2 separate regions of the Homo sapiens genome follow, and region 2 is linked to region 1. The links come from fine-mapping of genetic effects on gene expression. A gene starts in region 1. The other region holds a variant in brackets. All regions are shown on one strand. Distances are between the middles of the regions.

What was found. PIP is the estimated chance that this variant, and not a neighbour inherited with it, causes the effect.
Region 2: its variant is fine-mapped to the expression of NFIX in blood mononuclear cells (TOPMed, PIP above 0.99). The same link has a PIP of 0.9 or more in T cells and whole blood.

Annotation. Positions count from the first base shown.
Region 1 is chr19:12,993,693-12,997,907 of GRCh38, forward strand. It overlaps NFIX (nuclear factor I X), which reads left to right and starts at 1,783. Exons shown (of 11, transcript NM_001365902.3): 1 at 1,783-2,172. The coding sequence starts at 2,146. RefSeq lists a silencer at 1,730-1,889 and an enhancer at 2,064-2,652.
Region 2 is chr19:13,076,099-13,080,313 of GRCh38, forward strand. NFIX (nuclear factor I X) reads left to right here. Exons shown (of 11, transcript NM_001365902.3): 7 at 2,515-2,637. Among named protein-coding and RNA genes, the nearest start is that of LYL1, 25 kb to the right of the region's middle. RefSeq lists an enhancer at 353-1,288. The variant C/T (reference allele first, on the strand shown) is at 2,451.

The sequences.
Region 1 (4,215 bases):
TTTTGTGCCTGCTTGCAAGAGCCCAATGGGCACAGCCAACCCTGTGTGCGTGCGCACCCCCCGCCCTGGGCACTGACACCCCCTTTAACAGACAATGCATAGCTGAGAATTGCCACAGCTTTTTGGCCCAAGAGAGCAAGAAGGTGCTGGTTGCACCTGGCAGCAGGCGGGTGTTTTGTCTCAGCAGGAGCTGCCTGGGGGCTGTAGGCACTGCCTCCCCACCCACCCTGAGGGTTACCAGAGGGCTTCCTCTCCCCTTGCTCCAGGGTCCCCAGCACTACCTCTCCCCCCAGGCCTTTATGTTCTGAAAATGAGGAGTCAGGGCCCGCAAGAGGGGCTGGAACCTCACCAAAGTGTGTGTGTGTGTGTGTACATGTACGGAGGCCCTGATGCCCAATTCTGTCCCTGACAGCTGAGCTGTGGGTCTCCTGCTATATTTGCCTATGTCGATGATCAGGGCCACATTACAAGTGTGTTGGGGGGGGGGCACGTAAGGGACATGGGTGTATGTGTGTGATCCCTGTGTGCATGGCTAGATGATTCTCCCAGGGGGGTTGTCAGCCGCCTGGGCATCAGTTGGTCAGTGTGTCCAAGGCCTGTGGGTACATCTGGGCAACCCAGTGTGTGTGTGTGTGTGTGTGTCTGTGTGTTGTGTTGTGACAGCCAGTGTTGCTTTGTATCTGTGACGCTGTGTATCTCTTTGTATTGGGGTCCTTTGCATTCACTTCCAGGTGTTTGGTGTGTGTTTATGTGACATTGTGTATCTTCCCTTCATTAGTGTCATCTTATTTATTTAGTTATTTTTTTTCAGACAGGGTCTTGCTCTGTCACCCAGGTTGGAGTGCAATGGCACTATCATGGCTCACTGCACCCTTGACCTCCCCGGGCTCAAGGGATCCCCCCACTTCAGCCTCCTAAGTAGCTGGGACCACAGGCATCCACCACCACACCCAGCTAATTTTTGTATTTTTGGTAGAGAGGGGTTTTGCCATGTTGTCCAGGCTGGTCTTGAACTCCTGAGCTCAAGCAATCCACTGGCCTCGGCCTCTCAATCATCAGTGTCATTCTGTACATCGGGGTGTACTGCCACAACTGCCAGTGTGTTCTGGCACTGCGATGTGTGTGTGTTGTGTATGTGTCTGCGTGTAGGAATTGTGTGTCTGGAAGGTGTCAGCGTGTGGCTGTGTGATCTTGCATGTGTCTGTGTTCTGCAGGAACATGCGTCAGTGTGTGTGCATCAGTGTGCATCTCTATGTGTCATGCACTGGTGTGTCTTCGTGTATATCAGTGTGTGTCTACGTGACGCCTGCTTTGGTGTATGTCTATACGCGGTTCCTTGTTGTGTGCCTGGATACCATGGTGGGACGGTGCATGTCAGAGCGTGGGTCGTGGGTGTTTTCCCAGACTGCTGTGTGTGTGTGCCCGTGTGTAGGGGTTGTGTGTCTGTGCCTTGTGTGCACTGGTGTCCGAGTGTGCTTTGTGTTCGAAGGCGGAACGTGTGGCCAGGCGTTCTGGACGTGACATGTGTGGCGGGGTCCGAGTCCCGCTGCGTGTCAGCGTGTGTCTGCGCTGGAACGCGGGCCAGCACGTGTCAGGGCGGCCGCGTCGGTGTGCGCCCCCGCGCGCGCGTGTGCGTGTGTTCGTGTGTGTGTGTGCATGTGTGTGCTTGTGTGTGTGCGCCGGCCGCCGCTCCCCCGCCCTGCCCGCCCCTCCCCGCGCCCCTCCTCCCGCCCGCGCCGCCCGCCCGCTCCCTCTCCCCGGAGTGCGCCGCTTCCAAACTTTGTCTAAACTTTCACTTTCACAGCGCGGCGGCTGCGGCGGCGGCGGCGGCGGGCGAGGGTGACCGGCCGAGCGGCGGCGGCATGGAGTAGACGCGCGGCGGCAGCGGCGGCGGCGGCGGACGCGAGAGGCAGCGGCGAGCGCGGCGGCGGCGGCGGCAGCGGCGGCCCCGGAGCCGGCGGGGCCGAGCTTGCGAGCGGCGAGCGCGGAGCGGCGCCGGGCCGAGCGCGGGGCCGCGGGCCGGGCGGGCGCAGCGCGGCGGAGGCCGGAGGAGCCGAGCCGGAGCCCGAGCCCGAGCGCGGCCGCCGCCTGCCGGGCCTCCCCTCGCCGCGGCCGGCCGCCGCGCTCCCGCCCGGGCGCCCAGCTATGTACTCCCCGTACTGCCTCACCCAGGTACCGGCCGCCGCCCCCGCGCGACCGGGGGAGGGGAGCGGGCGCGGGAGGCCGGCCGGCGGCGCGGGCGGAGGGGACGCGCGGCGGCCGGGAAGGGGGGGCCGAGAGCCCGCGGGCCGCCGAGGGGTGCAGGCTGTGCCGCGGGGAGCCCAGGCACGCGTGCGGGCGTCACCGTGCGCGTGCGACCCTGGCCACCGGGCGGACTCCTTTTGGGGGTTCCGGGGGTGGCCAGCTGCGTCGTGGCGCTGCCCGTGGAGCGCAGGCGGGAGTGCGTGTACGTGTGTGTGTGTGTGTGTGTGTGTGTGTGCGCGCTCGACTGGGGTGCGATGGGCAGCGGGACTCCGGCTGACCTGTGGGCTACTGTAGCGCGCACCCGGGCAGCGTGGTCGCTGGCAGTGTTTGCGGGGTTGACAGAGTGGCAAGAGGGTGGTCCCGAGGGCGCAGAGGGGACACTGGGTCCCGCGACGCTTCCTGGGGAGGGCGCAGCGGTTCCCGAGGGTGGCAGTGGCCGGCGTGCGTGGCGGCGGCCCTTGCGTGCGGCCGGGGTGCCTGGGGTGGGCCGAGCGGCCCGGGCGTCTCCCCAAAGTCTTTGTTTAGGCCTCACATGGGAGCGGGGCTAAGAAAATGGCGGGGCTCCCAAATTTCGGAGGGGCAGGGGAGGGGAGAGGGGGGCGGGCGCGCTGCCAGCGGTGGCCGCGCCTCTCCGACCCCGGACGTCGCAGCCTCTGCCCCCCCACCCCCAAACTTTCCTCGGCGCAAACTTTCTGGCCCCAGCGACCCGGGCTGCTGCGGAGTGGACCCGGCAGGCCTGGGGAATCCCGTCCCGTCGCCTGGAGGCGGGAGGGGCGGGAGGCAGCCGTGGACACAGCCGACAGTGCTGCGGCCACACCGTCGGGTCAGCCTCGGGCACAACAGCGCCGACCTTGGCGCGTTGCTAGAGCGCGTCCCGCCTGCAGCGAAGTTCCCTGCGCGGCGCACGGCTGCGGCAAAAGCTTCGAGGATGCCTGTCGGGCCACCCAACTCTCCCTGGGCTGTGGCCTGAGGCTCTAAGAGGGCACAGAAGCTGCCCAGAGTCCCACAGTGGCCCTGACAGCGTTGCCTGCAGGGCCAAGCCACAGCTGGTAACAGTCTCCGAAGAGGGGACATCTAGGGGCTGCTTAGCCCTGCTGCCAGCCAGGCCTGCATGTGGGGGTTCTCTAGGCCAGGCCCTAATTGTCCCCTCTGCCCAGCCTGATCCTTGTCAGCCATGTGCCAAGTGTGTCCACAGCTTACAGTGGCAGTCCACATGGGTATGGCTCCTACTTTGTCTGGGTCCTACCGGGAGTGTGCAGTGGTGTCAAGGGGCGAGGGGTTTGTCGGGGTGTGTGTCAGCTGTGGCTACACCACACTCCTGTATGCACAGGTGAGAGTGTATGCAAGTGTGAATCAATCTAGAGTCTGTGTGTAGCCCCTGTGGGCCGGCCATGGGCAGGCCTGCGTGGCATGGCCGTGTGTGTGGCCCAGGGAGCGGGTTTTCCTGTAGAAAGCAGGCCCAAGTACGTGTTGGCGAGGGCGCACCGGCATGCATACATGTTGCAGTGTGCATGCAGGTGTGAGCAGGCACCCTGAGCACCATGGCAGTGTGGGGAACCCCCACATCTGCACCTCCAGTTCCACGGCCACTCCATGTTGGGCGCCCCTCACAACAACTGCCTACCCAGCGGTGTCTGAGCTGGGCCTCTTTGGTGCTACACTTGGCTGGGCTGTGTGGCCGATGTTTGGGGCCTAGTGGAACCAAGACCCCACGCTCAAGCAGCCCCTTGCCCACCAGGCTGCCAGCCCGGCCTCCCATGCCAAGCACGCCAGACATCTGAGCCTGCTCCCCCATGGCTTGGGTGAGACACCAGCCCCTCAGATTTCACAGCACCCTGGGAGAGAAAATGCCTGTGGATACGCCGGTGACATGGCTAGGAAGGGGCTGGGGCGGCTGCGAGACCCAGGGCGATGGCCGGTGCTTGGCTCTGTGTGATTGTAGGCCCAGGTTACGACAGTTCCAGTGTGCCA
Region 2 (4,215 bases), 82 kb after region 1:
ACCTACAAGATGCCAGCAGCAAAACCCCCACCCCCAGTTTTGATGACCAAAAACGCCTCCAGACATTGTCAGACGTTCCCTAGTGGGATGGAATCCTCCCAGGATGAGAACCACTGGTCTCAAGGGCCCAGCTTCACAGAGAGAGGCTCAGAGTCTAGTGAAGAATGAGCAGAGTCCTTTTGAGACCAGGTAGGGAAGCTAGCGAAGGGGAGAGAGTACAGAGGAAGCCAGCTCAGACCTTCCCAGTCTCCTCTAGGGATCTTCTTCTTGTTGAACCCACCCCCCTTCACCTCCATTCTTGACTGAGGGTGCAGACAGACCTAGAGAGGACTCTGGAAGACAGCATGTAACACGTGCGTGTGTGTGTGTGCATGTGCATGAGCACATGTGTGTGAGGAGGCTGGCCGCAAGAGTCCCCCGCTGACGTGCCAGTGGTACAGCCCGTGTTTATCCTCACTGTGGGTGTGACAGGGCCTGGGAGTGCAGACTCACGCGTGTGGGTTGTGCACAGGGCATGGCTGCTCTGGACAGGCCTGGGCCCTGGGCATCATTCTCCTCCTCCAAAAGGTGAGGGTCTGACCTAATGGTACTTTGTCTGATGTTTTCCAGATATGCCCCTACTGGGAAGGGCCAAGTGGGCAGGCAGAGTCTGGGGTGGAGCGAGGTGGGGCTGGGAAGCACTCCTGCTTTTCTGCTGCCCCAGAACGAATGCAAGTTCTGGCAGCTTCTCCTCCTCCTGGGAGGAGGAAAGGAGGGCTCGCCTCCAGGCCTCAGGCTGAGGGAGTGGGCTGGAGACCCTCTAGATGGCCAGCAGAGGCTGGCCTCTGTGAGAAGGCTTCCTTGCGTGACTCTGGGGCCCCTCCCAGGCTCTCCTCGTGGCAGGCAGGGACTTGGGCCAGCATGGGCCACATGCTTCCCTAGGGGAGCCTTGAGAGGCAGAGAGAGGAGTTGAGAAGGCCCGGGAGACTCTTGGGCTACATCCTGGGTCCCTGGCCGGGGCCTCAGTAGGTGACCCCTTCTGCAAGGACTGCCCCTGGGGTGCATAGAGGACTGTGTCTGCAGCTGGCTCCTGGGGCAAGGGCTCCTGGGCTCCTGTGCCCAGACCTAATTCCTGAGGAGCCCCCCTCTTCCTGGCTCCTGCTCTCTCCTTTCTTGGCTGTCTGCTTTTGCGCCTGCCATTTCTGCATTTCTGCTCCTTCCGGCAGTCCTGCCACGCACGGCCCCTCAACATCCTCCTGCAGCACCCTCCGGCTCCCTTTTCCCCTCACCCCGCTGTGTGTTGTTTTCATGGGCTGCAACAAATTGCCAATTAAGCAGCCCAGCTGCAGGACAGGGAACAGCTGGGGAGGCACTGTGCGGCCATGGGGACAGCTGTGCACAGCTGGTAGGATGCTCCCCCCTCCCCACTGTGCCAGCTATCAGGTGGCACACAGCTGCTGCCAGATAACACCTCCGCTGGCGGCTGGGAGTTCGCCCTTCCCCCGCCCCTTCCCTCTGCAGTTAAGATGGCTCTTTATTTCTCTGTTCTGCAGCCCCTCCACCCCTCACCCAAACTGACTTGATTTGTCCTCCAAGGGTGGCAGCTGTGAGATCTGCCCCAACTCTACCTTATCCTTCCCAGCCTGGGCACAACCTTAAAGCTCAGCCCAAGATGGGAGCTGATCTTTCCAGAAGAACCTGGCCCCCTGGGGGCCCTGCTTTGTCATTTGGATGCTATGGCCACTGGGCAGAGATGAATTTCTAAAGACAGACTTCAAACAAGGTGTTCTCTGTGCCCTTGTTTCATGCTGAATGCCACCCACACCTCTGGCACCAGAAGCAGGGCAGAGCCCTGAAATTATCCATCCTATGGCAGCTGAGCTTCTGGGTCCCCTGGCTGGGGGAGTCTTCTCCCCTCTGGCTCTGCCTGCACAGCCCGGCTAGGCCTGAGCAGCCCAAGGACTCTCCAGGTCCTCTGGCCTCTGTCCCTGCTCTCTCGCTGGGCATTGTGTCCCTCCTGAGGGCTCATGGCTGTGTGCTCCCTTCCCTAAACGGGGCCCTGGCTTCTTCCCACCAGAACCTCCCATGGCCCCGGGCACCATGGCATAGACCCCAGCCTGTCCCTCCCAAACTTACCCCTTCCCGGCTCTCAAGCTGGCGCCCTGGGGTTCCTCCTGCACTCCTTTCCCAATGTTGGTCCTGCATCCCACCCTTTCACTTCATTACCTGCTTGCCAGGGCATAGGCTGGGGCCCTTGCTCACCCCCTGCCTGGCACACACCACCCCACATTACCCAGGGGCCTCGTTTTCCTCTCTGGTTAGAAGCACCCCTTGGCTGGCCTACACACAGGGCCTCGGAACCAGGCCTAGAACAAGGCCTGGGACTGGGCAAGGAGCAGCAGGAGGGAGCACAGTGGAGGAAGGGGCAGTGGGGAGGGGCTGAGGAGAGAAGGAGCGAGCTGCTGGCTTCC[C/T]GCCTTCCCCGCACCCACCCCAGCCCAGCTAAACCTGCCCTGTGTTGCTGCTTCCTCCCCCCAGGCCCGGCTTCTCTAAAGAAGTCAGGAAAGCTGGACTTCTGCAGTGCCCTCTCCTCTCAGGGCAGCTCCCCGCGCATGGCTTTCACCCACCACCCGCTGCCTGTGCTTGCTGGAGTCAGACCAGGTGAGAAATGGGGGGCCCCGGAGGGGGGCAGTTGGGGAGGTGGCTGAGTATCTAGGGGCAGCTGGCCAGGTGAAGGGGCCAGAGCTGACCCCGAGTGACAGCCCCACGCTCTCCAAGTGGGCCAAGGTGCAGCAGCGGGTGGGCATGGGAGCCGGCCCCTGCTTCACGTAGCACCTCATCGAGGACCAGGCCGGGCCCCTGGGCTGCCCACCTGGCTCCTGAGCAACCTCCCACTTCTCACTCCTCACGTGCATGGGTGCTACATACAACACAAGCCTGTCCCGAGTCCTCCCCAACTCTGGCCCAGTTCTCCTTTTGTCCTGCCAGCTGTGAGCGGGAAGGCACAGCCTTCTGCTCTGCCTTCCTGCCGGCTCCTCTCTCCCAGCTCCTGGCTGAGCCCAGGCTCTGGATTTTTGCCAGCATGAGCCCAGGTTGATGTGGGGCCTGGATGGAGAAGAGTACTCCTAAGGAGCCCAGGCTCCTGCGGCAAGTAGCTACCTTGTCTGGGCCTCCCTGCCGCTTTCTAGAAAGGAAGGGCTGGGTCTAGGGGACAGGTGGTACCTGGGCTGCTCCCCAGGAAAAGGAACTGCCCACTGCCGTGGGGCTGCTCTCTGACTTCAGTGTCCCAGTTGAGAAGGTGCTCAGGATGAGAACACCTAGATCGCCCTGAGGAGATAGGATCAGGCAGGAGGCTGTGGGAGCTGAGACCTCAGCCCTGTCACTCCTTCACTTTCTTCTTCCCTCTCTGGGCACCCACCTGGCAGCAAGAGGCCTGGACTTTTTCTGGATATGGCCCTATGTCCGCCTGCCATCTCCTGGGCTCGTATGTAGGACACAGAAAATGAGGAGGTTTACCTCCTGGCTTCCTCCTTGGGGCCTCCTGGCTGGGAGCCCAGAGGCAGCCGGTGCTGGGGCAGGGTGTGGTGGCCGCGAGGTGGGGGTGGGGAGCCCAGGCCCTCTACACAGGCAGCAGGAGGGCGCAGGCCTGGCTCCTCCGGCTCCACCTCAGCTTTTATGAACTCCAGAGAGAAGCCAAGTTTCCTCAGCCCCCTAATGAAACCGAGAGCAAGAGCGAGCTGATTGGAAACAGACGGGAGGAGGAAGAGCTGGGGCCTGCTCTGGGTTGGGAATTGCGTGTGCAAGGACGCGTATGTGAGGACACGTGTGTGAGTGATGAGGCTGAGCACATGAGAACACCGCCTAGGTGGCGGTGGCTGGGTGCACACCAGCTCGCACTCAGGAGATGTGTGTGCATATGTCAGACGGCCATCCTGAGCAGATGCTGGCTTTGTCTTCATCCAGAGCCCCAGGGAACCCTCTGCCTCCTCTTGTCCCCCACCCAGTCTCCCACCCAGGGCCTGAATTAAGGCAGGGCTAGTGAGGCACTCACCTTAGGTGCAGAGTGTCAGCAAGTATCAAAAACTCAGTCATCAAGATAAATAATATTTTAATGGAATATGTTTTAAAATCCAAACTATTGCAAAAAAAAGGGTATGGTAAGCAAACACCAGTTTTTTTGTTTGTTTTTCTTTTTCTTTTTTCAAAGACAGTTTCCTGCTCTATTACTCAGGCTGAATG